4 linked regions of the Homo sapiens genome follow. The protein of the gene in region 1 interacts with the protein of each later gene in a biochemical or structural test. Each region holds a gene or a part of one and is shown in the gene's direction. Other genes may lie near its edges. The genes, in order: PRKN, UBE2L3, PSMD4 and UBE2G2.

The links.
Region 2: the proteins of PRKN (region 1) and UBE2L3 form a complex in vitro, tested with the Homo sapiens proteins (52 studies listed by BioGRID and IntAct, with this or other methods).
Region 3: the proteins of PRKN (region 1) and PSMD4 form a complex in vitro, tested with the Homo sapiens proteins (6 studies listed by BioGRID, with this or other methods).
Region 4: the proteins of PRKN (region 1) and UBE2G2 form a complex in vitro, tested with the Homo sapiens proteins (6 studies listed by BioGRID).

Annotation. Positions count from the first base shown.
Region 1 is NC_000006.12:162,716,496-162,724,816, reverse strand, and holds part of PRKN (E3 ubiquitin-protein ligase parkin), read left to right. Parts: intron 1-8,321. UniProt on the Homo sapiens protein: Functions within a multiprotein E3 ubiquitin ligase complex, catalyzing the covalent attachment of ubiquitin moieties onto substrate proteins. Substrates include SYT11 and VDAC1.
Region 2 is NC_000022.11:21,619,314-21,625,455, forward strand, and holds the end of UBE2L3 (ubiquitin-conjugating enzyme E2 L3), read left to right. Parts: intron 1-2,201; coding exon 2,202-2,356; 3' UTR 2,357-4,721; downstream 4,722-6,142. UniProt on the Homo sapiens protein: Ubiquitin-conjugating enzyme E2 that specifically acts with HECT-type and RBR family E3 ubiquitin-protein ligases.
Region 3 is NC_000001.11:151,257,734-151,266,054, forward strand, and holds part of PSMD4 (26S proteasome non-ATPase regulatory subunit 4), read left to right. Parts: intron 1-4,427; coding exon 4,428-4,568; intron 4,569-6,180; coding exon 6,181-6,295; intron 6,296-7,098; coding exon 7,099-7,185; intron 7,186-7,432; coding exon 7,433-7,501; intron 7,502-7,660; coding exon 7,661-7,876; intron 7,877-8,270; coding exon 8,271-8,321. UniProt on the Homo sapiens protein: Component of the 26S proteasome, a multiprotein complex involved in the ATP-dependent degradation of ubiquitinated proteins.
Region 4 is NC_000021.9:44,784,011-44,792,331, reverse strand, and holds part of UBE2G2 (ubiquitin-conjugating enzyme E2 G2), read left to right. Parts: intron 1-4,236; coding exon 4,237-4,272; intron 4,273-4,366; coding exon 4,367-4,412; intron 4,413-8,321. UniProt on the Homo sapiens protein: Accepts ubiquitin from the E1 complex and catalyzes its covalent attachment to other proteins. In vitro catalyzes 'Lys-48'-linked polyubiquitination. Involved in endoplasmic reticulum-associated degradation (ERAD).

The DNA of each region.
Region 1 (8,321 bases):
TACTTGAAATCACTAGTTACAGAGAACAAGAGTCTATAAACTCATTCTGTAAAACAAAGGAAAATTTGTTTTTCTTCTCCCTGTGTTGAGGGAGTGCTGAGAGAGTCTCCAGAGCATATTAGATAATATTATCAAGACTTTTCCTGGGTCTAGGCTGTGCCTGTTGCTGCTTCTGGAACAAGTTAGCCTAAAACAGGAAAACTTATTTCTCTTTCTTTTTAATTTTATTGTTCTTTAATTTCCCGCCTCAACCTTACTGCGAATAATATTCTGCCACTTTATTTAAATCCTGGCTTAGTTTAAGGAGAAACGTAAAGATGGGTTTCCTGGTAGAATAGGAGTAAACAGGACTGACTGTGACCTCACTGCTAATGACATGTACCTTCCTTTTACTTTCTCAAAACCGAAGATTCCCTTATTGGCATGAGGACTGTTTCAAAAGTACTTACATTTCCCACCTGCATTGTGATTGATGTGTTGAATGCCCTGACCCAGGCAGCTACAGAAACATAATTTAATTGAAGTCGGTTAAAAATTGTGCCTTTGTGGAAAGTGTGGAGAAGGACTTCAAGATGATATAAAGCAGAATAGAAAAGCTTAAAAGAATTCAATTTAGAAAAATGTAATTTTTGGTACCTCTATTAAAAATATATTTTGACTTTTTTAAAAATGAGCAATTCTTTGTGTTTAAAATGGAATGTTAGTGGGGATATTTGTGGTATGTTCTAAATGTTCTGTAGAACTGGATTTAGGTATTTGAGTAACAGCAGATATTAGAGTGCATGGTTATATATACAACAATGTTGTCAGTATTGAAATACACATTCAGTGTCTTAGACTTTTAAGAAGATTTTTGATTGACAAAAACCATTCATTGGAACATAGTCTCTTCTATACCTTGTTTCACTTAGCATCTCTTTGAGAATTTACATATCTGCATGTCCAGATCCACTCCACAGCGATTCCTGCCTAGTCTTTTATAGGATACACTAATTATGAAAATATTTACCAATAAATAAGCACTCATTAGGTTTACAGACAACTGTTGTCAGAAGTGTTTGTGGCCATATCTTTTTACTTGCACATGTAAGCATAGATGTAAAATAAAAATCGTATGACAATTTGAGTTAAAGAGTTTGTAGATTTTACATTTTCCTAGGTATTTCAAAATTTTTCCAAAATAAGTTGCCCAATTTTACAAGCCTATCTAAAGCCTCCACTAATACAACATGGTAGTAAAGAGCTGCCCTGCCCCTCTGGGCTGAAAATTGCCAAAAGACGTCCTTCCTGAGACTGACTCAGCTTTCACTAGCAGAACGCCTCCTGGATCTCCGGTCCCCCACCTCTCTCTCACCCTAGGGGTAGTGCCTTTCAGTGTACAAGCTGCACAACTGTCCTTGGTGGCCCTGCCCTCCCTTTCAGTGTGTATAAGAGTGCCCATTTCCTCCCATGTGCCATCGAAGATTTTTTATTTTTGCCGTCTTGACAGATGAAAAACAGTATCTTTTAACTTTTCAAATTAATTTAGAAGAAAACTTCTCATTCTCATCTTATAGTGCGTTAGTTTTGCAAAAGCAGATCCAGTGATTCCAGCACCTGCTATGTACCCTTAACTGCTCTAGGTGCCAGGGAAACGAGGGAACACAACAGAAAAAGTCCCTTGCCATCAGGAATGTATATTCCGACTTCACCATTTGGCTACACATCTGCATATTTGTTTTCAAGCTTGTGTGCAGTGAATTTTAAAGTCTCAATTTATATTTCTAGTTGAATATACTGTGTACTGCTCTTTGCCCTGCCATTTTGATAAGTTGATGAAAACCAGCTCTATGCCTAAGTACCCCAAAGCTTCTGTTTATAATGAGGTAAAATTGTGTCAAAAATAGGCTCTACTAAAGTTTTGCATAGAAGATTTTATGTAATTATATAATAGTTCTTCCTTGGGTCCAAAGGCTCTAAAATGACCCTTTGCCCTTTACAATTTTGGCCCTATTTCTGAGGATGTTTTTGAAGTCTGCATTTTTTGAAACCTCATAGTTTCATTGCCTGAAAATGATACAATGAAAGTACTTTGTATTAAGATATGTAAATCCATTCCTACCTCCAAAGTTTCTTTGAAAAATGCAAAAAAAAGAGTTCTTACTTCGAAATGCTTCATATTCATGAAAGCAGTTTTAATGCAAAATACTTTATTCTGTTAGCTATTAGTTCTTTGATCAATGAAAATTGTTTCTTACCTGCTGTTTCTGCAGCCTTTAATTGTAGCCCAGTGCTTATTCAATGTTTCTGTTTTAATTTGCATTTAATGAGCTCATTTTAAATGTTTCTTCGTAGTAATCTGAATGGTTTCTCTCCCTCAATTTTGTAATATTAAAGAGACTCATGTGACAGTCGGCTGATTTATGTTGCAGCTCACCTCCCTGGCTTATTTACTTCATCCTGTAGCATAGAATCTTGGTTAAAAGGAATTACAGTAATAGGATTCTTTTCCCCCAGTAATTTCCTAATTACCTAGGACTCTTAACAGATTAACTCAAATGTCTGTTTTTCACCAAATAGAAACCTTTTTTCCTTGAATGAATAGGTATTTATGATTATTATTTCAGTGTCATTTCTTTATACCATATGTATTAGATGGTGCTGGGTAGGGATGGGTACACATAGGTTGTATTTGTCTATATATTGCCTGTGGGGAAGGTACATAGAAATGACCATTTCTTCCCAATAAGTTTGTGGCCTAGTTGGGCTGATTAGGCTTATATTGGTGGTATAGATTGCACCTTCACCACCACAGAAGAAGAGTAATTAGAAAGATGTATGTACATATCAGCACACACATACATGCCTGCAACACGTGATTTTTCATGTTTCTTTTGTTCATTTGATTCTCGTTGATCTGAATGCCCTTTCTTTCTGTTGAACATCTCAAAACTACTGTTCATCACTCAAGATCCAGTTCCAATGGCACCAACTTTATGTGAAATTTTCCATGTCACCTCTTACCCTCTTTTTAGTGTGAGGCAATTAGCACCTCCTTTAGAGTCAGCCAACATTTTAGTAACTACCCTTCATCAGGTCCTTGTTCATAGTCTAGAAGGGGTACAGAAAAGTAAAGATTTACAAACCTGAAAGGTGGGTATCATAATATAGGTTTATACAAGGAAGTACTGGAAAACTCAGCCTATAGAGCTTGGAAGATCCAGCTGTTTCCCAGTGGAGCCATTCCAGTTTTCCTGCAGGACAAGTAGGAGTTAACTAGGTGAAGGCGGCCTTCTAGACAGGCATGGAGGGGAGAGAAGAGAATAGAATGAAAGGTATCTGGTGAGGCTGCAGGCACACCAGATAAGCTTTGTCAAGGAGGTAGGTTTAAAGTTGGCGATAGGGAGGAGTCACTGAACCATTATCTACAAAAGAGCATTATGAACAGGTTGTATTTTAGAAAGATGTCTGTGGCAGTACTAGAAAGTTATGAAATAGAACGTTGTAGAAAATAGTTACACTAGTGCCAGCAAGTCCAGATAAAGTGTTAATAGAGGACTTCTCATGACCTTCATTGTACTTCTTAGATAAAACAGAATACTTGAAATCACTAGTTACGGAGAACAAGCGTTTATAAACTCACTCCATAAAACAAAGGAAAGAAGTCCAGATAATGTTTAATAGAGGACAGTCTTCGACTGAGAATGGCAGGGTAATTGTGCAGTAGGAGATGGCTTTTCTCAGGGTGTTGACATTGATTTGATATGTCATTACATCATCTCTGATTAAAGGCCATATTTCTTTTTAAAAAGTTCTTATTTTTGTAGAATAGATTAATGTCTCTTATTGACAGGTGTTTTATTTCATGTTACTAAAGCTTTATTTGTATTCCAAAAATAGTTTGTATCTCCTTCTTTGATATGTGGAACATGATGCTTAGGGTTCTATTTATAGTTTCTTCTCTGTGTGGAGAGAACAATGTCATCAGAGCTGTGGATATCGTGTCACCCAGAATAGTGCAGAATAGTTTCTTCCTCTTAGATATCTGCATGACTCATATACCTAGGCACATATTAAGACCATCTATGGGCCGGGCGCGGTGGCTCACGCCTGTAATCCCAGCACCTTGGGAGGCCGAGGCGGGTGGATCATGAGGTCAGGAGATCGAGACCATCCTGGCTAACAAGGTGAAACCCCGTCTCTACTAAAAATACAAAAAATTAGCCGGGCGCGGTGGCGGGCGCCTGTAGTCCCAGCTACTCGGGAGGCTGAGGCAGGAGAATGGCGTGAACCCGGGAAGCGGAGCTTGCAGTGAGCCGAGATTGCGCCACTGCAGTCCGCAGTCCGGCCTGGGCGACAGAGCGAGACTCCGTCTCAAAAAAAAAAAAAAAAAAAAAAAGACCATCTATGGACAGATGTGTGTATTTTTAAGAGTATTGATGGCTTCTTGATGATTCTCTCCAATTTACTTTTACTGTAAGACCTGAACAGAGGCCCCCATAAAGTTTCACATGAGAGCCCTTAACTTTGGAGGAGAGAATGTTCAATAGTTAGCAGCCTCACCCATTTTGCACATCTCTACTCCTACCCTCATCAAATGAGGGGGAAAATTGGTGATTAGGGAGTTAATATTGGTGTCCTGATTGAGACTTTTTATTATTTATTTACATAATTGTTGAATACGCCAGTTACTCCTATTGTGAGATATTTTTGGAGTTTCAGTGCATAAATAAGATCTTGTGATGAAGCCCTCTGTAACTGCGTAGTCATTTTTAAAGCTTATTGTACCCGCAGAGTAGATCCATTTTCCAGATCATGAAATGATAGGAAGTAGACACCTGAAACTTGCTCGTATTAATAAAATGGAGAAATAGGAAGGAACATTTGTAATATCTGTGTTTCTGAGGTCAACCTTTAGTTTTTTTTTTTTTTTTTTTTTTTTTGACATCTACCTGCACTCCCTCTTTTCTGTCCCCTCATTTTTTTCTTACCCACATTCCTTGATTTTCTCAGAAGCTGGAATTTAATATTTCATTCTTCAGCTCAAAGGAGCAGCTGTTGTCTGAACAACAGGTGAATTTCTTCCTTACTTGTTGCCACAGGGCTTGACTGTGGGTTGTAATGTTTCTGAGGGTTATCACAGGAGTGGCCTGACCGGAACAGACCAGGCTTCACCACAGCTCCTACTGGAGACATTCCCTAGATTGGGAATTGTCTGCAATGGAAATCTTTGTAGTCTCTGGCTCTGCATTTTCCTTCCAGGCAAATCCAGTCCTGATTACAATTTTTTTTTTCCATTGAAACAAAATTGAGGAATGATGAACTCTGGGCAGCTAGAGGATGGGGGCAAGTTAGGTTTGCTCCTTGGAGAATTAGACAGATTTAAGAATAATATTCCCTGTGCCCTGGGTCTTCTCTCCACCCTTGAAATTCGACCTCCTTTCTCCTGAAAGTCCTTTATAGCTCTCTGGTGAGTTCCCAGAGTGTGAGAGGTACAGATTTAAGCACAAGTGAGGTCATGTTCTCTGAGGTGCTGCTTCTCTGGGCTCCTGACCACAGACAAATGTAGACTGCATGATCCAGTTGATATTCACCAAATTTGTATAATTACATGTGACAATATATAAAGACGTTTTTACATGAATATGTCTGAATTCATAGGATCAGATGGGAAGTATATGTGTTTTATTGGGCAGTCAATTTAGACATAATCATATGATACAGAGAGTGATATTTCGTAGAGATCTGTTGTGGGCTTTCCACTCTTGTTCATTTAGGAATCTGTGAGATGCTCAACCTATGATTGGAATTGGAATTTCTTCCTTTTGTCCCTCTCTAGAGTTTTCTCCATTATTCATTGTCCCTTTCTCGTGTGTGTGTGTGTGTATGTGTGTGTGGCATCTGCCGTGTCTCACTACATGCAGAGCTTCTGACATAGGTATTGACTTTTATATCATCTTGATTTCAAAGAAGTCACCAAATAATCTTATTCTCAGTGTCTTGAGTTTTATACCAAGTCTCTGTGCTTGTTTTTTATGTTCTGGCAATTTCTGGGCATTGTTGCCCATTTTAGAACTCTATTTTGTTTTGTGGGGGACAGTTCTGGAATAAATTTTTTTTTTTTTGAGACGGAGTCTTGCTGTGTTGCCCAGGCTGGAGTGCAGTGGCGTGATCGCGGCTCACTGTAAGCTCCGCCTCCCAGGTTCACGCCATTCTCCTGCCTCAGCCTCCCGAGTAGCTGGGACTACAGGCGCCTGCCACCATGCCCAGCTAATTTTTTTTGTATTTTTAGTATAGACGGGGTATCACCGTGTTAGTCAGGATGGTCTCGATCTCCTGACCTCGTGATCCACCTGTCTCGGCCTCCCAAAGTGCTGAGATTACAGGCATGAGCCACCGCGCCTGGCCTCTGGAATAATTTTTAATGGAGATTCAACATCTAAGAAACTTTCATATTGGATCAAGACATAGTTGTCACAATTCTTAGTGTGTAAATTCATTAAAAGTCCCTTCTGGCTTTTGCAGCCAATTTAATCATCTTATGCTTAATAGAATGCAAGTTATACAGGTAAAGTCAGTCAGAGAGGGGATGGGGATGCTATTTGAGATGAAGTTCCTAGAAGTAATAAGATTTTTTTTGTCTTAAAACAGTGATGATAGGATGATTAAGTGATCTAAGATGGACAAATATGTGTGAGTTCTTAATAATTGGGAAAGATCTTTTTTAAAAAGTGTTAATGTGACCATTTAGTTACCATAACTGGAAACTAGATAGCATTAGGGGCCATTTGTATATGTAAAAATATCAGGAAGTATACCGGCAAATTATATCTTTGGGTTGTGGGATGTTTTCTTTTATTATGATTGTGTTTTTCAGATCTTCAGCGTTAAGCGTATAATGTTTTGGAAATACTGAAAAGCAATGTGTTATAAACACAATCTTCAGGACAAATGCATTGTGGTAATACATTTAAAACGGATTCTACTTTTGTGTCAAATTATGTCAGATAAATTTTCAATGGTAGCATACTATGCTCATGTTCTGGTCATAAAAGTAGTGTTTTCAGGAAAACAAACATTAGAACCATAATTTCACTTTCTTTAATATTATACACTATCGGGGCATGGCCAGATTACTGTATTAGTTTTTGTGTAGTTCCTGTTGTTGCTGTAACGAATTACCACAAGTTTAGTGACTTTTAAACACAAATTTATTTTCTTACAGTTCTGGAGGCCCAAAGTCCAAAATGACTTTTTTTTTTTTTTTTTTTTGAGACAAGATCTCCCTCTGTCACTCAGACTGGAGTGCAGTGGCACAAACACAGCTCACTGCAACCTTGAATTCCTGGGCTCAACTTCCCGAATAGCTGGGACTATAGGTGCATGCCAACCTGCCTGGCTAATTTTTTTATTTTTTATTTTTTGTAGAGACAGGATCTTGCTATGTTGCCCAGACTAGTCTTGAACTCTTGGGCTCAAGTCATCTTCCCACCTCAGTCTCCCAAAGTTGTCAGATTACAGGTGTGAGCCACTGTGCCCAGCCCCAAAGTGACTAAAAGGGACTAAAATCAAGGTGTTCGCTGGGCTAGCCCCTTCCATTAATAGAAGCTCCTGTGGAGACTCCTCTTTCACTTCTGGAGGCTGCTGGCATTCCTTGGCTCCTGGCCACATCACTCCAGTCTCTGCTGCTGTGGTCACATTGCCTTCTCCTTTACTGCCATCAAATCTTGCTCTGCCTTCCTCTTAAAAGAACACATGGGGTTACATTCAGGAGCCACCAGGATAGCCTCTTCGTCTCCAGATCCTTAATCACATCTGCAAAGTCCCTTTTGTCATATCGGGAAACAGTCGTAGGTTTCAGGGACAAGGAGGCATTATTCAGCCACCACAGTTACCAGTAATGCTTCACCATTTGAACGTATGGTTAGGTACTTCCTTATGAAGGAAGAATGACAGAGAGCTACAACTTGATTTTTGCCTATTGTGAGGTCACTTAAAGGTAATGCAGTAGTGTTACACATGAGGAGTCTGTGTGTGTGTGTGTGTGTGTGCGCGTGTGTGTGTGCGTGCGCGCGCGCGCAGGCGGGTAGGGTGTATGGACTAGTTGATGAAGCTAGCCAAGGACATAACTCACTTTTCAAGGTAGTTTTCTCAGGTGGCAAAAGAAGGTGTGAATATTCTCCTGGACTCCCATAGTGCATTGCAGCTGGGTAATTTGATATGTACCAGGTTGCTAATTTGTATCCTGTAGAGAAGGGGAAGTTTTGTTATGCTTTGGACAGGAGATACCACTTCACATAACAGATGATCAGGCAAAGTGGAAGCAAATAACCATTATGTGT
Region 2 (6,142 bases), on another chromosome or scaffold:
GGTGATACCACCTACCCCTGAAGAGGCTTAGAGACTGAATTAGAGGCCACCCTGGCCTGCAGAGAGCTTTCCAGGCCCCTTGCCCCTGCTTGCTGTTCACAGTCCACCCTCCTTGCCCATCCACCCCCAACAAACGTGGAACCTGTCAGCATTGCATGCGCAATGCCCTCCTCGCCTCTGCCCCACTGCTTCACCTCTACCCACTGTGGTCACAGGAGCCCTCTCTTTCCCATTCTCACCAGGCACAGTAAAAAGCAGAGGTTAGGCAGGTGGGTTTTGGACACCAGGCCAGGAGTACTTTGTGCTGTGGCCCTCACTTAATGTGTGCTGTTGAATGATTATGCCTTTGCATATGACTCAGCCAGCATCAGCATTTTGTTTTATTTATTTACTTTTGAGACAGAGTCTCGCTCTGTTGCCCAAGCTAGAGTGCAGTGGCACGATCTCGGCTCACTGCAACTGCCGTCTCCCGGGTTCAAGCGATTCTCCTGCCTCAGCCTCCTGAGTAGCTGGGACTCTAGGCATGGGCCACCATGCCTGGCTAATTTTTGTATTTTTAGTAGAGACGGGGTTTCACCATGTTGCCCAGGCTGGTCTTGAGCTCCTGACCTCAGGTGATCTGCCTGGCTAGCATTTGCATTTTAATCCATTTCTTGTAATGCTGAATGAACAATATGAGCCCTTAATAAAGGAATTGACCAGGTGCAGTGGCTTCATGCCTGTCATCCTAGCACTTTTGGGAGGATGAGGCGGTAGGATCACTCAAGCCCAGGAGTTTGAGACCAGCCTGGGCAACATAGTGAGACCCCATCTCTACAAAAAACTAGGCCAGGAGCAGTGGCTAACACCCGTAATCCCAACTACTCTCAAGGCCAAGGTGGGAGGATTGTTTGAGCCCAGGAGATAAGACTGCAGTGAGCTGTGATTGCACCACTGTACTCTAGCCTAGGTTAAAAAAAAAAATTAGCTGGACGTGATGGCATGTGCTTGTAGTCTCAGCTACTCAGGAAGCTGAGGCAGGAGGATCATTTACACCCAGGAGTTTGAGGGTACCGTGCAGTAAAGTATGATTGAGCCACTGCACTCCAGTCTGAGTGACAGCAAGACTGTCTAAAAAAAATAAGAAGGAATTTGTGGCATCAGCAGTTCGGAGAAGAGGGGCACTGTTTTACAGTGGGAAGGAACATTCTGAGGGTGCTGGTCCTGACAGGGTCAGGGGGCAACTGTGGCAAAGTATGTGAGGAGGTGTGGGTAGCAGCTGCTTCTGATTCCCCACTATCCTTCCACCCTGGGGCACGTCTGGGCTACGGCACCTAGGGGGAGTACTGTGGCACCCATCAGAGCCATCAGCGTGACATCTGCCTGTGGTCTTGACAATGTGATGCGATGGCGGTTGTCAGCTTCCCATTGGCTGGCCCCAGTGACCCTTTCTAGAGGGTTCAGAAACTCCTAAGGGTCTTCCAGAGTTGGGTCATTGCGCATTGACAAGTGCAGCGCCATCACATACCCTTCTCTCTAGTGCCCACTCAGTCACCTTAACCGAAACTTCCCTGAGCCGAGCATGGTGCTGGGTGCTGGGCTGATGCAGGGAAGTTCTACCCGGTCCTGCCCTGAAGAAAGTGACCCTGTGTGCATGCATGAGAGTGAGCAGTCAGTTCAATACTAGGCCTCCTATCTCCAGAGTACACAAGAGGACTGGATTAGCCGGGCATGGTGGTGCACGACTGTAGTCCTGGCTACTTGGGGGACTGAGGCTGGAGGATTGCTTGAGGTCAACCCAGGAGGTTGAGGCTGCAGTGAGCCAAGATGGTGCCACTGCACTGCAGCCTAGGTGACAGAGTGAGACCCTGTCCCTCCTCCCCAACCCCCCGCCAAGAAAAAAGGGCTGGGAGTGACTGAGGGCTAAGACCTCCCCAGGTGTTAGGTCAGGAAGGCTTCCTGGAGGCGGAAGCACATCACTGTGAACAATTATCCACTGTAGTGTTAGCTATTTGTTGTCCATCAGTGTCTTCTAATCACAGAGGAAAGATGAGTTTTCTGGCAGTCAGAATTTTGGATAAATAGGAGGCAGCTTTGGCTTAAAAGCACATTAGCTGTAAATCAGTTGTAAAGCCAGAGTTTTGTTCCCGGATTAGCTGCCTCTTGCCTGTGCCATTTCTGAGACTGTGTTAACCCCCCATGCCTTGTCCTTCTCTTGGCAGTAATCCAGTCCCTCATAGCACTGGTGAATGACCCCCAGCCTGAGCACCCGCTTCGGGCTGACCTAGCTGAAGAATACTCTAAGGACCGTAAAAAATTCTGTAAGAATGCTGAAGAGTTTACAAAGAAATATGGGGAAAAGCGACCTGTGGACTAAAATCTGCCACGATTGGTTCCAGCAAGTGTGAGCAGAGACCCCGTGCAGTGCATTCAGACACCCCGCAAAGCAGGACTCTGTGGAAATTGACACGTGCCACCGCCTGGCGTTCGCTTGTGGCAGTTACTAACTTTCTACAGTTTTCTTAATCAAAAGTGGTCTAGGTAACCTGTAAAGAAAGGATTAAAAATTTAAGATGTTCTAGTTCTGCTCTCTTTGTTTTAAAAATCACTGCTTCAATCTACTTCAAAAGAATGGTGTTTCTTTTCTTGTCCAATTTTATCCAAAATCTTCAAGTTACATTTAACCCATAAGGTTTAAAAAAAAGGAAAAAAAACGGTTGTGGTTCCCTTTCTTCCCTACCCTTGCCACTCCCACTTTCTGGCACCGAGTTTATTTTTCACTTACTTACTTCCCCAGACCCCGGGCTCGCCTCCACAAAGGAGAAGAGACTGCCCTGGCGGTCCTGGTGGCTTTTCTTAGCATGTGTGGCACTGTTGCCCAGTGTGGGAGTTGGTTTAAATTCTCCTGACTCCAGTTTATAACATCCTTTTAAAAAATTTAAAAACAAACAGCCACACCCCTCCTCCAGTCCTTCTCCTCAGTTCTTGTGTGAAACTCCAGCTGATGTTACCACAGTAACATCAGTTAATTGGGCAAGCCCTGATGTCAGTGTGTGTAACTGACCTCTGGCCTGGCCTGCACAGAGAAGCCCTATAATCACAGGTCTGTGGTGGCCCCGAAATGGGGGGCCTGCTAGTCAGGAGGATGCTGTGCACACTGTGTGTGATGAATCTCGCCAGAAAGGCTCCTGAGGTCCCAGGTTGGCACTTCTCCCTGCAGCCATTGTAGAAGATCTGCTGGTCCTTGCAGGCAAAGCTACAGCCAGAATGTCCGTTTGAAACTCCTAGCTCATCTGTCACCGAGCTTCATCCGAATGTGCCACGGAGCTTGCTCTCCACTTCCTCCGTGCAGTGGCCCTGCCACAGCCCTCCCTCGGCACACTTTGACCCTTTGTAGGATTGGAATTAGCAGGACTCGGCTATTTAAAGCACCAGTCTGGGGTCGCCTGGGCCCCTGCTGACCCCCTCCTCCAGAGCAGCCAGCCCAGCCCGGGAACAAGACGGACTTCCTCTCCCTTCGGACTCACAGCCTTTGCAGAGTCAAGCTCCACTTGAAGCTCACTCAGTAATATCCTTTCAATGTGTTTTATATTGTTTTGACTGCCTTTTTTTGTAGAAATAAAAATTGACCTTAGAATTTATCGTCAGATAAACTTGTAAAGATTTGAATATTAATGTCTTTTCAAGGCAAATGGGATTGTCCCCGCACTAGTAGAGAATCCATGTCGCTCTGACACCCCAAGGAAGCCGACGATCCAAATGCCGTGTGTCACCAACCCCGCTTCTGCCACTGGCGGCTTCCCTTCTTGGCTCTTGGGGGGGACTAGATCCTGTGGAGAAGATGACTTAAACTTTGCTTTTTGTTTTAATTTTAATTCTATAACTTGAGATCTTTCCGGGGCCTACAGGCGTGTAAGACAGCTTGGTCTGGTCTGTGCAGAAGTGGGGAGTGATGGGCAGGTTCGGCAGCCTAACATTGTTCAGGCGCATGGCCCCTGCGGTGTGTACACGAACTCGGCTTCTTTTGTCCTAGGTACGCCAAGGGCAGGTTTCTGGAGACTCCCTTGTGCCCGGGATGGCAAGGGCACCGGGCTGGCGTTTCCACATCTGTCTTCATTAGCAGAAAAGTGATGATGGATTTTATTTCACTCACACTCCAGTTTGTAATAAAATGCCAAATTCTGTCAGCTATCCAAACAAGCCACCATTTGTTCTTGTTGCTTCTCTGGATCCAGAAATGTTGCCATTCTTGGAAACTGTCCCATTGCTTCGTATTTCTGCCAACGTAGCTCTGCCTGCCTGTCAACCCCTCACTGCACTCTGCTCATCACGGGAGGATACCTGTGTGCCGGCAGCCCCTCAGGGACTCTCAGCCCTGGCACTGGCACCCCAGGGTTGGCCCCGTCAGCAGAGGCTTGGCTTTCGAGCCAGTGGGTGTCTCTCCTTTGGGCCTGGGCGGCTTGCTCCTGCCAGCCATGCCTTCAGGGTAGGCTCTGAGCAAGCTGGCGAACAGCCCTGGCTGCTCCAAAACCAAAAAGCTGGGTCCTCTGGAGGAGGGGCGAGCTGTGGAGCAGCCACCCACTGCTGCCCCAAGCTCACTCAGGAATTCACACCCGCCTGGTTTCTTGAAGTGTGCTGGGTCCTTCCCTCTGCTCCCTACTCCCCACCACGGCAGAGAATAGGCTTTCTAAGATGCTGCGATCCCGTTCTGCTGCCCGTAATAAAAATGCTCTCAGACACTGGTTAGTCGTGTGGGTTTCTTCCTTCCTGGGAGCGGGCAGTGCCAGGGGCCTATGCTCTTGGAGATGGGAGGGCTGGCTGGGGCCCAGGTCCTGGGGCTTCTGATCTCTCTCCCCATTCCCAGCCTCTCCAAAAGAGGTACATAGAAGTGTTCCTGCCTCCCTAGAGGGAAGGAGATGAGGTATAATCAGCAAGAAAGCCGGAGACTTCAGACAGTCGGGGCCTGCAGAGGGCGCTCTTGGGCGTCTCGTTGAGGGGACAGGGACTAAAGTGTGGGTGCATCACTTACATGCGTGGGTCATCCTGGAGCCTCCTGGGAGTGTTAACAATCCATGTTTAGAAGAGGCAAACCTGCGGTCCCAAGAGGTCACAGAATTGATAAGGGTGTGCCTGTGGGTGGAGCTGGGCCATGTCCATGAATGGTGCCAGCCAGAAACACTCTGAGTCCCCAGTACAGCCCACTGCCAGGGTGCTGCGGCAGTGGTGCTAACTCAGCAAGGGCTCAGCCAGACCCAGGACTTTTTTGGCTAGGCCTTCCCTGCCTGGAATTTGACACCAGCTGAGACTAGGCCTGCACTGTTCAGCTGGATCTGCAGGTCTTGGGGAAGGAAACTTCTTGGGGTGTCATTTTACTAGCCTTTAACATACCTAGCACTTTACCCTCTGAGTCTCAGGAGAGCCCTGTGGCATCCTTATCCCTGCTTTTAAAGACAACCAAGACCCCTGGCCTGTTTTTGTTCACATTCTGACTGCAGAGCCTGTTGCATTCCACCATTTGGCATATTTCTTCCCACAGGGTCCCTCTGAGCCCAGAAACAGCCAGTTACCACCCTCCCCAGAGCCAGAGACCTTTAAGCCCCTCTGTCAACTTCCTCTTCCCTACAGCCACCAGCCACCATTTTTGGCCTTGTTCACTATTAATTGTTCAGCATGAAATAAGCATCCATTTCATCACTCCTGTACCCGCTGCAGCCTGACTTCTGTCACCTGCTGCCCCTTGCTGCTTCTCCTTTCATTTGGTGCCATCTAACCCAGCCCTGAAAGAAGCCAGAGCTGCTCTCAGCATTTCCCACCCTGTCCTGCCTGGCTCTTCCTTCTCTCTCTGCTTCCTGGATATGGCATGGGGGAACCGGGCACCAACCCAGAACAGAGGGGAGCTGAGGGTACCATTGCTCCCAGTGCAGTGCAGTGCCTAGCCTGGTCCATGCCTGGTAAGTGGCCATTTCCCAGATTATTGGAACGTGTTCTTGTTCATAGAGGGCCCCTAGGGAACCCTGGAGGCCTCAGAGGATCAGAGTAGAAAGGACCACCGTGCAGAGGCGATAACTGAGGCCTTGGGAAGGAAGTCACTTCCAGAGAGCATTCCCCACCCGGTGCTGGCCAGGTTCAGAAACCCCCCTGTGGCTCCACATGTTGCCGTGGG
Region 3 (8,321 bases), on another chromosome or scaffold:
TTTTGTATTTTTAGTAAAGATGGGGTTTGGCCATGTGGCCAGGCTGGTCTTGAACTCCTGGCCTCAAGTGATCTGCCCACCTCAGCCTCCCAAAGTGCTGGAATTACAGGTGTGAGCCACCATGCTCGGCAGTATGGCCATTTTAATGATATTGATTCTTCCTATTCATGAGCATGAGATGTTTTTCCACTTGTTTATATCTTCTTTGATTTATTTGAGCGGTATTTTGTAATTCTCATTGTAGAGCTCTTTCATCTCCCTGGTTAGTTGTATTCCTAGGTTTGTTTGTCTATTTGTTTGTTTTTTTGAGATGGAGTCTCGCTTTTGTTGCCCAGGCTGGAGTGCAGTGGCGCCATCTCGGCTCACTGCAACCTCCACCTCCCGGGTTCAAATGATTCTCCTGTCTCAGCCTCCCGAGTAGCTGGGATTACAGGTGCGTGCCACCATGCCCGGGTAATTTTTTTCTGTATTTTTAGTAGAGATGAGGTTTCATCATATTGGTCAGGCTGGTCTCGAACACTTGACCTCAGGTGATCCACCAGCCTCAGCCTCCCAAAGTGCTGAGATTACAGGCATGAGCCACAACACCCAGCCAAGGTATTTTATTCTTTTTGTGGCAGTATGCACATAGTTCTTGGCCCCATGTAGTGCATCATGGGGAACCTGCTGTTGATGTGACTGCCTTGCACATGTGCCATTGTATTACCCTTTTCGAGTGTTTTTTTTTTTTTTTTTTTTTTTGGGGGAGACAGGGTCTCATTCTGTCACCCAGGCTGGAGTGCAGTAGTGTGATCTTGGCTCACTGCAGCCTCGACCTCCGGGGCTCAAGTGATCCTCCTGCCTCAGCCTCCTGAATAGCTGGGACTACAGGCACTTACCACCATGCCCAGCTATTTTTTGTATTTTTTGTAGAGATGGGGTTTTGTCATATTGATTAGGCTGGTCTCGAACTCTTGGGCTCAAGAGAGCCTCCCTCCTTGGACTCCCTAAGTGCTGGGATTACAGGCATGAACCATCACACCCAGCCTGTATTCTCTTTTAAAATAAAGGTTTTGGCGGTAATCCCAGCTACTTAGGAGGCTGAGGCAGGAGAAGGGGTTAAGCCCAGGAGTTTGAGGTTACAGTGAGCTATGATTTCACCACTGGCCTCCAGCCTGGGTGACAGAGCAAGATCCTGTCTCAAAAAAATATGTGAAATGGCCAGGTGCGGTGGCTTACACCTGTAATCCCAGCACTTTGAGAGGTTGAGGTGGGCGGATCATCAGAGGTCAGGAGCTCAAGACCAACCTGGCCAACATAGTGAAACCCCGTCTCTACTAAAAATACAAAAATTAGCTGGCATGGTGGTGCACGCCTGTGGTCCCAGCTACCCGGGAAGCTGAAGTGGGAAGATCTATTGAGCCTGGGAGGTTGAGGCTACAGTGAGCTGTGACTGCGCTTGAACCTGTGCCTGCGCTTGAACCTGTGCCTGAATACTACCCTAGACAGGTTGAGTATTCCCTATCTGAAATGGCTAGGACCATAAGTGTTTCAGATTTTGGATTTTTGTCAGATTTTAGAATATGTACATTATACTTAACCAGCGGAGTATCCCTAATCTGGAAGTCTGAAGTGCTCCAGTGATAATTTCCTTTGAACATCATGTCAGCACTCAAAACTCAAAAACTTTCTGATTTGGGGCATTTCGGATCTCAAGAGTTTCTGATTAAGTGTACTTAACCTATATATTCCCTTTTCTGTTAATACTTGTTTTCCAGTACCTTCTTAATTACTTCTCTTTACCATTTTTGGTTTATTGCCAAACAAAGCATACTAAAGAAAAAAAAATTGCCCCAGGCTCACATTTTGCTTGCCAATAGAAATGAGATGTCTTGGCTAGGTGCCGTGGCTCACACCTGTAATCCCAGCACTTTGAGAGGCCAAGGCAGGAGGACTACATGAGTCTAGGAGTTTGTGACTAGCCTGGGCAACAAAGTGAGACTCCATCTCTATAAAATAAAAAATAAATAAAAAATGTGGTTTTTTTTGGTAGAGACTGGGTCTTCCTGTGTTGCCCAGGCTGTTCTCCAACTCCTGGGCTCAAGCGATTCTCCCTTCTCGGCCTCCCAAAGTGCTGGGATTACAGACGTGAGCCACCATGCCCAGCCTAAAAAATAGATAAAATTCTAAAAAGAAGAAATGAGGGCCAAGTGTGGTGGCTCATGCCTGTAATCCCAGCACTTTGGTAGATTGAGGTGGGTGGATCACCTGAGGTTGGGAGTTTGAGACCAACCTGACCAACATGGAGGAACCCCGTCTCTACTAAAAATACAAAATTAGCCGGGTATGGTGGTTGCATGCCTGTTATCCCAGCTACTTAGGAGGCTGAGGGAGGAGAATTGCTTGAACCTGGTAGGCGGAGGTTGCGGTGAGCCGAGATCGAGCCATTGCACTCCAGCCTGGGCAACAAGAGCGAAACTCTGTCTCAAAAAAAAAAAAAAGAAAGAAATGAGGTATCTCATCTAAGGCACTGCTTCCGTCCATTAGCACAGGTAGAACCTTAACTATTAGAGCTCTCAGGGACCTCAGAGGTCATCAAGAATTGATCCTTACAGGAGCTTATATAACTGCATCACTTACCTGCCTTCTTCTGGTCTTTGGGAAACTCGAGATTATATTTCACATTAGCTGGATACTTTTAGATCATGAAAAGTTGCAGGGATCTAAGAGGTGAGACTTCAGATCCACAAAACCTCATTTTTACCGTTCAGTTCAGCTGTCAAAGCTGTTAAGCATTTAATGAGATGATTGCATTGTACTTTTCTGCACTCAGTGCTGCCAAGTGTGTGTTATTTTATAGACCTCTTTTTTTTGAGGCAGTGGCACGATCTTGGCTCAATGCAGCCTCCACCTCTCAGGTTCAGGTGATTCTCCTGCCTCAGCCACCCGAATAGCTGGGATTACAGGTGCCTGCCACCACGCCCGGCTAACTTTTATATTTTTTAGTAGAGATAGGGTTTCACCATGTTTGCCAGGCTGGTCTCAAACTCCTGAGCTCAAGAGATCTGCCCACCTCGGCCCCCCAAAGTGCTGGGATTACAGTTGTGAGCCACCATGCCTGGCCCTATTTTATAGATTTTTTTTTTTTTTTTTGATGGAGTCTCACTCTGTCACCCAGGCTGGAGTGCAGTGGCGTGATCTTGACTCACTGCAACCTCGGCCTCCCGGGTTCAAGCAATTCTCCTGCCTCAACCTCCTGAGTAGCTAGGACTACAAGTGTGCGCCACCATACCTGGCTAATTATTGTATTTTTAGTAGAGACGGGGTTTCACAATGTTAGCCAACACTGGTCTCTAACTCCTGACTTCAGGTGATACACCCGCCTCCACCTCCCAAAGTGCTGGGATGCACTTGGGAGGCATAAGTCACTGTGCCCAGCCTATTTTATAGATTTTTTTTTTCTTTTTCTTTTTTTTTTTTTTTTTTTGAGACGAAGTTTTGCTCTTGTTGCCCAGGCTGGAGTACAATGGTGTGATCACCACAACCTCCGTCTCCTGGGTTCAGGCGATTCTTCTGCCTCAGCCTCCCGAGTAGCTGGGATTACAGGCATGTGCCACCACGCCCAGCTAATTTTCTACTTTTAGTAGAGACAGGGTTTCTCCATGTTGGTCAGGCTGGTCTTGAACTCCTGACCTCAGGTGATCCACCTGCCTCGGCCTCCCAAAGTGCTGGGATTACAGACATGAGCCACCGCGCCCAGCTATAGATATTTTTAAGTTACCTTCTTCATTTCCTATATTTGGATTACTGCCATTTAATGGCAGACTTAGAGTATTTATCCATGACAAAGCTTAGTAGCACTTAAGTGCAGCTTGTAAGAAATTGCTGTGGTTCATCAGTAGATCACCACCTTTGGTGCTCATCAGAATCATTTTGTAAGGATTTAAAAATTTTTTCGGCTGGGCACCAGGTGGCTCACACCTGTTATCCCAGCACTTGGGGAGGTGGAGGCAGGAGGATCTCTTGAGCTCAGAAGTTCAAGACCAGCTTGGGCAACATAGCTAGATCCCTGTCTCTACAAAAAAAATTTAAAAGGTAGCTGCGTGGTGGCTTGCACCTATAGTCCCAGCTACTTGGGAGGCTGAGGTGAGAGGATCACTTGAGCCCAGGAGGTGGAAGCTGCAGTGAGCCATTAGTGCACCACTCTACTCCAGCCTGAGTGACAGAGCAAGACCCTATCTCAAAAAAAAAAAAAAAAAAATTCCTCATTGGTTATTCTGAGTCAATAAATGTGGGCTAAGGCTTGATCATCTGTATATTTAAAAAAGAAAAAAAGCTACAGGTGATGCTATGAAGACTGCTGCTATAGGGGGCCTCTGGAACTGGAGAGAAGGTTTTGGAAAACTTCTACATTTCTTCTCTCTTGTCCTTCAACCCTAATCTGACAGTGTGGACAACAGTGAGTATATGCGGAATGGAGACTTCTTACCCACCAGGCTGCAGGCCCAGCAGGATGCTGTCAACATAGTTTGTCATTCAAAGACCCGCAGCAACCCTGAGAACAACGTGGGCCTTATCACACTGGCTAAGTATGGGGGACAGAGGAGGAGGGGACTCAGTAGGTGGGTGGTTGTTACATGCTACTCTTCTTTAGATTCCATGAAGCTGCTTTTGCCCATCACCTTCCTAGACTGCCTTCTGCACTATTTAGTGTAAATGTCAATAGCAACTTGTTTTTTGTATTAACCTGTATTTAATGTAGTACGGAAGCTAAATCTCCTGGGGTGAAATTTCTGTTTCTTTTTATTGTTTGTTGGGCAGGGCTAGGGTAGGGGGTGAAATTTCATAATATATTTTAAAGTCAGTGAAAAGTGATTTTGGGCTGGGCACAGTGGCTCATGTCTGTAATCCCAAGAGTTTGAGACCAGCCTGGGCAACAGGACAAAACCCTGTCTCTACTAAAAATACAAAAATTAGCCAGGCATGGTGGTGGCTACCTGTAATACCAGCTACTCAGGAGGCTGAGGCAGGAGAATCGCTTGAACTCGGGAGGCGGAGGTTGCAGTGAGCCAAGATCACACCACTGCACACCAGCTTGGGCGACAGAATGAGACTCCATTTCAAAAAAAAAGAAAAAAGTAATTTTTGGATCAGAGCCCCTGGGCATATATCACTCATCCTTTTACCCTGAAAGTGTTTTGTTTTAGGAACTGATAATTCTTAAATGAGTAGCCTCCCACTCCAGTGTACATACTGTTAGCTAGGAGAATGGGTCTGGAGGTGGAGAGGACAGGAGAGATACAAATTAGCATCGTTATTTTGGTGGATTCTCAGGGCCCTGTGAGCCTTTAAAAGGAGTTAGGGGAAAATATTTGGAAGTAGAGGGCAGCTTTCTTACAAAGCCAGCCACTTAATTATTTCTGTGCTTGGTTTCCATTAAATACTAGATGTTTGATTGAGAAGAATAGAGGCCAAGCACAGTGGCTCACGCCTGTAATCCCTGCATTCTGGGAGGCCAAGGCAGACGGATCACTTGAGGTCAGGATTTCGAGACCAGCCTGACCAACATGGCAAAACCCCGTCTCTACTAAAAATACAAAAATTAGCCGGGCGTGGTGGTGTAGATCTGTAATCCCAGCTACTCAGGAGGCTGATGCACGAGAATTACTTGAACCCGGGAGGCGGAGGTTGCAGTGAGCTGAGATTCGCCACTGCACGCCAGCCTGGGTGACAGAGCGAGACTCTGTCTCAAAAAATAAAAAAGAAGAATAGAGATTACAATTAGAATAGAAATAATGGTTATTATCCAGGTCTTTAAAGAAAAGTCAGACACAGGCCAGGTGCGGTGGCTCACGCCTGTAATCCCAGCACTTTGGAAGGCCAAGGTGGGCGGATTACGAGGTCAGGAGATCGAGACCATCCTGGCTAACACAGTGAAACCCCGTCTCTACTAAAAAAAATACAAAAAATTAGCCAGGCGTGGTAGTGGGTGCCCGTAGTCCCAGCTACTTGGGAGTCTGAGGCAGGAGAATGGCGTGAACCCGGGAGGCGGAGCTTGCAGTGACCCGAGATCACGCCACGCACTCCAGCCTGGGTGACAGAGTGAGACTCCGTCTAAAAAATAAATAAATAAAAGTTAGACACAGTTTAGAGGTACTTGTGCTGACCTGAATTCACTGAAATGCTTTTCCTACATCCCAGTGACTGTGAAGTGCTGACCACACTCACCCCAGACACTGGCCGTATCCTGTCCAAGCTACATACTGTCCAACCCAAGGGCAAGATCACCTTCTGCACGGGCATCCGCGTGGCCCATGTGAGTCCTACTGGGTTCCCTGGACCTTTCCTCCCTGCTCTGAGGTCCTGCCTCCATCATACTCATTTCTCCCCTGGAATCCTGAGCTAGGACCAGAGCAAGAGAAAGCTAACTTGGAGTAGAAAGGATATGGGGGATGAATCCCAGGGTAGTTGAGGGTTGTGAAGGGAAAAATCCCTAGAATTGAGAATTAAGGCTGGGCGTGGTAGTTCATGCCTGTAATCCCATCACTTTGGGAGGCCAGGGGAGGAGGATTGCTGAAGGCTAGCAGTTCAAGACCAGCCTGGGCACATAGGGAGACCCTGTTTCTCTAAAAAAAAAAAAAAAAAGGCCGGGCGCGGTGGCTCACACCTGTAATCCCAGCACTTTGGGAGGCTAACACGGGCAGATCACCTGACGTCACGAGTTCGAGACCAATCTGGCCAACGTGGTGAAACCCCATCTCTACTGAAAATATAAAAATTAGCCAGTACTAGGAAGGCTGAGGCAGGATAATCGCTGGAACCCGGGAGGTGGAGGTTGCAGTGAACTGAGATCACGCCACTGCACTCCAGACTGGGCGACAGAGCGAGACTCCATCTCAAAAAAAAAAAAAGAGAGAAAGAGAATTAACCTCCCTTCTTTATGCACAGAGAGTCATAGCAAAAAGGGAGGAGGTGGGGGTGTTAAATCTTGTGTGAACGTGATGGTAGATGGTGTACTTCAGGTACAAAGAAACTGTAAGAAAAAGGGAACCGAGTGACAGAGGAAAGAGCTGAGTGATTCCTCTGGTTAACTCTGAGAACTTCCTCTCCCTTTACAAGCTGGCTCTGAAGCACCGACAAGGCAAGAATCACAAGATGCGCATCATTGCCTTTGTGGGAAGCCCAGTGGAGGACAATGAGAAGGATGTGAGTCCAAGTGGCAGCTGGGGAATGTGGGGAGCCCATGTTTGGGACTGAGGTCTTCCAGCCCTCAGGAGAACCTGGCAGAGGCATCAGGCTCATCACTTTGGGGAAAGGTGAATGTGGAGAATTCAGTGATTCTGTTGGAGGACCTTGGGGAGGTCAATAGATTTCTGTATGCTTTTATGCGGCGGGTCCTTTCCCCCCCTCGAGTATGGAACAGATTTCTTGATTTTTCTCCCCTTCTTCCCAGCTGGTGAAACTGGCTAAACGCCTCAAGAAGGAGAAAGTAAATGTTGACATTATCAATTTTGGGGAAGAGGTGAGTAGGGACTGATTGGAGGGCATTGACTTAATTTGGTCATAAACAGAATGGTCCTTAACCCTGAGGAGTGCGGGTACTGTGGCAGAGTAGTGCAGAAATGGGAAAGAACAGGGAGCAAGGCCTGAAGAAGGGCATCATGTGTTCTTTCCTCCCCAGGAGGTGAACACAGAAAAGCTGACAGCCTTTGTAAACACGTTGAATGGCAAAGATGGAACCGGTTCTCATCTGGTGACAGTGCCTCCTGGGCCCAGTTTGGCTGATGCTCTCATCAGTTCTCCGATTTTGGCTGGTGAAGGTGGTGCCATGCTGGGTCTTGGTGCCAGTGACTTTGAATTTGGAGTAGATCCCAGTGCTGATCCTGAGCTGGCCTTGGTGAGCAAATGTTGACCCCAGGTAGAGTCCAAAGGTCCCTCTTTGTTCTCTTCTGGCACACACATCACAGAGCTTCTATCAGGCTGGATAGTCCTAGACACTACCAATCACTCATTTTCCAAGACCTCCTTTTGCCGCCTCTTCCCTATAATGCTGTCTGATCTCTAGGGGCACCAGTGTCAGATGCTTTCTTGTTCACTTCTGATGAAAACCGAGGCTTCTCCCAAGTCCTTACTTTTTAATCCCGTACCACTGCTTATCCCTCCAGCTTCTTCTCTGTGTGATAAACCAGAAGCTGCCCCTTTATGTTCCTTTCCCACACCCCAACTGACTTTCCCAGCTCCCTGTAGGAGTGAGGGCAGGGGAGCCCTGATTATGCCCTGCCCTTCACCAGGCCCTTCGTGTATCTATGGAAGAGCAGCGGCAGCGGCAGGAGGAGGAGGCC
Region 4 (8,321 bases), on another chromosome or scaffold:
CAAAGCCAAACCATGTCATTTCTCCCCCTACCCCTCCCAAATCTCATGTTCCTTTCAAAACCATTCCATTTCAAAACAAATCATGCCTTCCCAGCAAGGCCCCCAAAGTCTTAACTCATTTCGTCATTAACTCAAAAGTCCAAGTCCAAAGTCTCATCTCTGACAAGGTAAGTCCCCTCTGCCTAGCAGCCTGTAAAATCAAAAGCAAGTTAGTTACTTTCAAGATACAATGGAAATACAGGCATTGGATAAATACTCCCATTACCAATGGAAGAAATTGGCCAAAACAAAGGGCTACAGGCCCCCATGCAAGTCCGAAATCCGGCTGGGCAGTCATTAAATCTTAAAGCTCAAAATGGTCTCCTTTGTGACCCCGTGTCTCACATCCAGGGCACACTGATACAGGGAGTGGCTTTCATGGTCTTGGGCAGCTCTGCCCCTGTGGCTTTGTAGGGTACAGCCCTCCCACACCCACCCCCTTCAGCTACTTTCATGGTGGGCATTGAGTGTCTTTGGCTTTTCTAGGTGCACAGTGCAAAGCTCTTGGTGGATCTACCGTTCTGGGGTCTGGAGGATGGTTGTTCTCTTCTCACAGCTCCACTAGGCAGTGCCCCAGTGGGGACTCTGGGAGCTCCAACCCCACATTTCCCTTCTGCAATGCCCTAGCAGATGTTCTCCATGAGGGCCCTGCCCCTGCAGCAGATTTCTGTCTGGACATCCAGGCGTTTCCCTACATCCTCTGAAATGTAGGTGAAGGTTCCCAAACGTCAGTTATTGAATTCTTTGCACCCACAGGCCCAACACCACGTGGAAGCTGCCAAGGCTTGGGGTTTGTACTCTCTGAAGCAACAGCCTGAGCTGTACCTTGGCCCTTTTTAGCCATGGCTGGAGCTGGAACAGCTGGGACACAGGGCACCAAGTACCAAGGCTGCACAGAGTAGCAGCGGGGCTGGGCCTGGCCCACAAAACCATTTTTCCCTCCTAGGCCTCCCTGCTTGTGATGGGAGGGGCTGCTGCCAAGATCTCTGACATGCTCTGGAGACATTTACCCCATTGTCTTGGCGATTAATATTTGGCTCCTTGTTACTTATTTGAATTTCTCTCCAGAAAATGGGTTTTTCTTTTTTATTGCACCGTCATGCTGCGAAGTTTTCAAACTTTTATTCCCTGCTTTCTTTTAAACACGAGTTCCAATTTCAGATCATCTCTCTCAAGTTCAAAGTTCCACAGATCTCTAGGGCAGGGGCAAAATCTCACCATTCTCTTTGTTGAAACATAGCAAGGGTGACCATTGCTCCAGTTCCCAAGAAGTTCCTCTTCTCTTTTTCAGACCACCTCAGCCTGGGCTTCATTGTCCATGTCACTATCAGCATTTTGGTCAAAAGCATTCAGCAAGTCTCTAGGAAGTTCCAGACTTTCCCACATCTTCCTTCTTCTAAGCCCTTCAAACTGTTCCAACCTCTGCCTACTACCCAGTTCTGAAGTTGCTTCCACATTTTCAGGTTATCTTTATAGCAGTACCCCTGGTACCAATTTACTGTATTCATCTGTTTTCACACTCCTATAAGAACTTCCCTGAGACTGGATAATTTATAAAGGAAAGAGGTTTAATTGACTCACAGTTCCACATGGCTAGGGAGGCCTCAGGAAACTTATCATGACAGAAGCCGAAGGGGAAGCAAGCACCTTCTTCACAAGGTGGCAAGAAAGAAGAGTGAAGGAGGAACTTTCGAACACTTATAAAACCACCAGATCTCATGAGAACTCACTGTCATGAGAACAGCATGGAGGAAATTGCCCCCATGATCCAGTCACCTTCCACTAGGTTCCTCCCTCAACACCTGGAGATTACAATTCAAGATGAAATTTGTGTGGGGACACAAAGCCAAACCATATCAATGGACATTTGGGTTGTTTCCAGTTTGGGGCTATTACGAATTTAGCTACTATGAACATTCACACAAAAGTCTATGGCAACATAAGACCCAGTAGAATTGCTGGGTCTTAGAGTCAATATATATGTAATTTTAGTGGAAATGGTCAAACTTCTTTCCCAAAGGGTAACCAAACCATTTTGCATTCCCATCAGTGGTGCATGAGAGATCTACTTGCTAAACTTGCCAGCACTTTAAGTCTTTAATTTTGGCCATTCTTTTGTGACTAAAGATACTGATAATGCTGAAGCTATTGAGCTGTATCTTATTGTGGTTTTAATTTGCATTACCCTTATGATTCACAATGTTGAGCATTTTCTCATGTGCTTATTAGCCATCTGTTTTAGTCAGTTCAGGCTGCTGTAAAAAAATACCAAAGACCAGGGAGCTTAAACAACAAACATTTATTGCTCCCAATTCTGGAGGCTGGGAAGTCTGGTGAGGGCTGTCTTCCTGGTTTGCAGATGACTGTCTTCTCCTTGTGCCCTTACATGGCCAGAGGCAAATCTCTCGTTTCTTCTTATAAAGGCACTAACTCCATTCATGAGAGTTCTGCCCTCCTGACCTAATCTCCTCCCAAAGGTCCCACCTCCCAATACCACATACATTAGGATTCAACATAGGAATTTTGGGGGGACGCAAGCGTTTGGACCACAGCATCATTCGTGTTGACTCTGACAGTGGCTCTTTTCAACTCTGCCTCCATTTTTCTTCTTACCTATTTTGATTTTTATATGTGGTGTGAGATGGGGAAAGTTTGATTTTTTTTTGTCTTAGAGATGAGCATCATTCATGGAAAAGACTGCCCTTTGCCTCTGGGCCATAGCTCTGTGTTCCCTCGAGTCAGGGTCTCTGTTGGTACAGGTATGCTTCTGGGCTTTCTCTTGTGCCCCATTGTTCAATTTAACTTTGAGCCAGTGCTACGTTGCCTTAATTTCCATAGCTCTGTAAGGAAGGCTTGGTAACTCATAGATGAAGCTTTCTGTTTATTCTTTTTTTTTTTTTTTTTTTTTGAGACAGAGTCTTGCTCTGTCACCCAGGCTGGAGTGCAGTGGCGCGATCTCGGCTCACTGCAACCTCCGCCTCCTGGGTTCAAGTGATCCTCCTGCCTCAGCCTCCCAAGTAGCTGGGACTACAGGTGCATGCCACCATGCCCGGCTAATTTTTCTATTTTTGGTAGAGATGGGATTTCGCCATGTTGGCCAGGCTGGTCTCGAACTCCTGACCTGAGGTGATCCACCCGCCTCGGCCTCCCAAAGTGCTGGGATTACAGGCGTGAGCCACCGCGCCTGGCCCTCTGTTTATTCTTTTTAAAGATAGTGTCTTGGCTATTCTGGATTGTTTGCATTTTTATATATCTTTTAGAAAGATATATATATGCCTCATATTCAGCAACTGTGCCAAACTCACTTTTACTAATTATCTTTAGATTCTTTTGGGCTTTCCTGTATATATGGACATAGCATCTGTGAATAATGAGTTTTATTTCTTTTTCAGTCCTTATACCTTATATTTATTTGGCAAGGATTTATTAATTTTCTGTCTCTTCAAAGAACCACCTTTTGGTTTCATTGATTTTTTTTTTTCTGTATGTTTGCTTACTGTTTTATTAATTTCCCCAGTCTCACTCTGGTTGCCCACTGGACTCCAGCCTGGGCAACCAGAGTGAGACCCTGTCTCAAAACTAAGCAACAAAGTAACCAGCAGGAACAGTTTGGAAAGACAGTGTACCCCTTATGTTTGCTTTTGCATTTGTAAAAAGAAAAAGAAAAAGAAAAGTCTATGTTTTGTTGGTATAAAGAACTATTTGGGCCGGCGCGGTGGCTCATGCCTGTAATCCCAGCACTTTGGGAGGCCGAGGCTGGCGGATCACGAGGTCAGGAGATCTAGACCATCCTGGCTAACACGGTGAAACCCCGTCTCTACTAAAAATACAAAAAATTAGCTGGGCGTGGTGGTGGGCGCCTGTAGTCCCAGCTACTTGGGAGGCTGAGGCAGGTGAATGGCATGAACCTGGGAGGTGGAGCTTGCAGTGAGCTGAGATCACACCACTGCACTTCAGCCTGGGTGATAGAGTGAGACTCCGTCTCAAAAAAAAACAAAAAAAAAACAAAAAAACTTTGTGTAGTTGTTATCAGAACCGTTATTGTACTAGGTATTCACTTTGGGCAAACAGAATTTTCACTTGTTAATATGCATATTCTATGGTTTATAGGCTTATATATTTTGTAAAGGTGTTTTGTTAAAATGACAATGTAACATTTATTCTGTTTGGTAATGGTTTTACTTATTAATTTTATAGAATTAACACTGAATCCTCCGGAAGGAATTGTAGCAGGTAAGGTACCAAAGTTAACTTCCTTATAATTTACTTTTAATTGCCAAAGTTCCTTCAAAGTTAAAATGTTGTGAAATTTTTTCTCACCCTACAGGCCCCATGAATGAAGAGAACTTTTTTGAATGGGAGGCATTGATCATGTAAGTTAATTTTAGGTGTACTAGTTTTTAGGGCTTTGCTGGAAGTCAGATGTAAGAATCACATCAGCAGTGTGACTGTGTCCAAAAGCATCAGCTGGAAAAAAGACTGAGTTCTCCAGTAATGCCCAGCTCTCGTCTAGGCTGCTGGTCTGAAAGCAGAGAACCTGAGCATTGATCCAAAAGAAATGAGTGTTTCCTTAGAGCCAGTCAAAGGTTTAGTTATAATTATGTAATATATGTATTATATATTTGAGAGTTTTAAGGTGGTAATTTTGGAATGTTGTATGATCGTGGTTAAAATAACCTCAAATGGCGTAGGTGGCTTTGGCTTCCAGAAGTAGCCCCTTCAGGTGTGAAATTTTGACGAGAAAAGGGTCCTCAAAGATGTGTCTGACCACACCAGGCATGTTAGCGCAGCCTTGCCTGCCCTGCCTTTGGGCCAGGACTTCTTTTTCTTCTCCTTTCCTCCCAGTTCGTATCTTCGTGTGCTGCATCTCCTTTTTCTGTTGCCTTGTCTGGACTTGTTGGCCTTGTGTTCTTTCCGACCCAAGACATGGCTTAGTAAGTGAGCAGTGTGGTTCTGGGATTCGTGGCATTTAACTTAGGGTGACGTTGCTTGGAAAGAGAAACACATGGACCCCTGATTTTAGAGTGTTCTATGGCCTTGACTCACTTTGCTTTTTCTTCTTTCTACCTTAGATGTGCAATTTTTGGCCATTCTTAGTGTATTTTCAGCAAAGTGAGGTTAAATAAAATTTAGGAAGTTGAAATTTGTAATCAGTCTCTGTTTTCTTTCTTTTCTTTTTCTTTCTTTCTTTTTTTTTTTTGAGATGGAGTTTCGCCCTTGTTGCCCAGGCTGGAGTGCGGTGGCACAACCTTGGCTCACTGCAACTCCTGCCCCTTGGGTTCAAGCGATTCTCCTGCCTCAGCCTCCCTAGTAGCTGGGATTACAGGTACCCACCACCGTGCCTGGCTAATTTTTGTATTTTTAGTAGAGACAGGGTTTCCCCATGTTGGCCAGGCTGGTCTCGAACTTCTGACCTCAGGTGTTCCGCCTGCCTTGGCCTCCCAGAGTGCTGGGATAACAGGTGTGAGCCACCGCGCCAAGCCCAGTCTTTGTTATCTCATTAGTGAGGTCTTTTAATTTGCAGCAAGGTCTTGGGTTGGATTTTGTTGCATTGAGAAGTGCTCTAGAGGGCAAGGACCGGAAAAGTGAGGGCTGTGAAACAAGTGTGGGCTCTGGCTTGAAGTGATCTTAAGCTTCATGATGCTTTTGGAATTCGCCAGTTGCTTGGATCACATTAATTCTTAATGCTCTATGGGTTGGTCTGAGAAACAGATTGCAGCTAAGTGTTGTCTGTGGAGGTTAAATTGATATGAAAATTAGTATTTTGGATAAACAAAATGTTTTTAAAAAATCATCAAACGCTATTCAGATGGTACAGCACGCCTGCCATTTCCTGATCATTTGTAATATCCTAATTGCTTGGGCCTATGGCACATGTTTTTTCGGTGTCTGAAGGTTTCTGGAATCTGTGTTTGTGTGTAATGTGGCCCCCAAGGCAGTTATGAGATGGATGGCGAGTCCCACAGTCTGGGCTGTCCTCATTAGTGGACTGTGCGGCTGTATACTTGTATCGGGGCAGCTCTTTTTATTTCTGTAGAAGCAGGAGATCATATACATGAACTGATGTGTAACCTGCTTGTTTCATGTGTTAATGCAGGCGCACCTGCACTCATGCCAGCGGGGCAGCACGCCTGCTGCAGGGGCCCAGAGTGGCGGGAGGCCTGTCTGTGTGTAGAGGTTGAAGGCGCCTGTCGTGTCTGCAGTTATTTGTGGGGTGTTGGCTCCTCCGTAGGCCTATTTGGAAGCTCATTAAAGGAACAGTTGAGCCGTCCAGTGTGGTTTTAAAAAAATGTTCATTGTTAAAAATCGATTAGGGTAACTATTACCAATTTTAAATAAACAGTGTAAAATTAAACCAATATTTTGAAAACCTGTCTTAAAAAGTAATTAGAACTATTTTTAGGTAGAGCACTTCTGTGTTTGAACAAGGCTTTTTGCATTAGTTTGGAATTCCCCTGCTTGAAGATCCTAGTGAGTTTGTGGGTTTTGGTCCTGTTCCAGACCCTTCACAAACAAGAGGCCGTTTACAAGTGCACTTAAAATGCCTATTAGGGAATTAACTGTCCTCCCATCGATTTGTCTCACCCTGCTATTTTGGCAGACATCTGGCCAAGTCTTTGCTCCTTGGTGATAAGTTTCTTCTTTTTCTCTTTATTCTTTGATGGCTTCCAGGGCCGCCTCTCTACCCTAGTATTTCTAAAACCCGTGCTTGCCTCACAGAAGTCGAACGGCTGTTGGTTTTTGCTGTTGTGCTTGCCTTAAGGGCCAGTGAAGAAAATGTCATTTTAGATATCTAAGCAACAAACACTAAGTGCCTTTGATATGTTAGGGCCCTTGTCTGAAGATACAGACATGTCAAAGATGCACTGAAATCTTTACCTTGGAAGACCAGGGTTGAGGGATTAGGATGGAGAATAGAACAGATTAGTGAATGAGAGGACTAAATAATGAGAGTCCGCAGGCTGTGTCTTTAAACACCGGGAATAACTCTGCTGACCCTGCCACGCTCATGGTGGAGTCTGAGCCTGCAATCAAATCGAGCGTGGCTGGGATGGCGGCACACCAGGGGATGTGGCCACCGTGGCTGTGGGTGCTAGCATGGCCTGCTGCTCTTGGCCCAGTCACTTTGCCTCTCTTTGACTTATTTGGATCAAAACAGAGAGGTTTATCAGCATCTTCTAGACAGATGGTTACAGGTCTTGCCCAGCTCTAGGGTCCATGGCCCGTGACCCCATTGCCACTAAGCCACGGTGACGGGGGTGTAGCTGCAGAGAGGGTGGGTGCCCTCTTTCATTGATGCACTTATGTGGGACAGAAGGAGTCCTAGACAGCTGTTCATCCCCAGTGGCCGGACAAGGCGTGGAGTCCCTTGGCGCTTGCTGTCCTCTGTGTCCTGCCCCAGCATTCCCAAATCAGCTGGCTTGGTGACCTTCTTGTCTGGTTCATGCCTGACTGCTGTCACCTCCCCAGACCAGTGGTTCTAGAGGCTGTGGTGAAATAAGAAGGACCTTCCTTTACTGAATGGTGTGTTTGGGGCCCAGTTGGTGGATGGATGCTCCCAGGTTCTCCAGCTGGCTCATGGCAGCCAGCTTGAGGGCTCCCAGGCTGCCGCGGCTTCTACCAGGAGCCCTTCTCACACTGGGGGCCAGTGTCCGGGGCACAGCAGCCTCCCTTTATGTCCAGGTTTCTTGTTGACTGAAGACTGTCACAGGGCATCTCTTGGCAGTATTATGCCTTGCTGAAATAAACCCGAGATAATAAAATAGGTGTTTATAATTTGTATTGTATGTAATCTCACCATAGCATTTTCTTCAACAAAAGTGTCACAAAGATCCCTATATGAAGAAGTTATTGCCACATTCATTGCAGTAATAATAATAAAAAAGGAAACATCACTGTTCCACATAATTTATGGAGCATCTATATAGAGTAATGCCATGTAGCTGTAAAACAGTTCAGGTGGAATTTTCATCCTGGCATGGAAAGATGTACACAATATAAATGGAAAAGGCGGATTCTAGAATAATAGGTCTGGAACCGTCTGTCCGTCCTTCCTTCCTCTCCTCTCCTCCCTCCTCTCTCTCTTCCTTTCTCCCCTCCTTTCTTCCCTCCCCTCCCCTCCCCTCCCTTTCTTATGGAGACATGGTCTAGCTCTGTCACCCAGGCTGAAGTTCAGTGGCCTGGTCACAGCTCACTGCAGCCTCAAACTCCCAGGCTCAAACAATCCTCCCACCTCAGCCCCACAAGTAGCTGGGACCACAGGTGCACACCACCACGCCCAG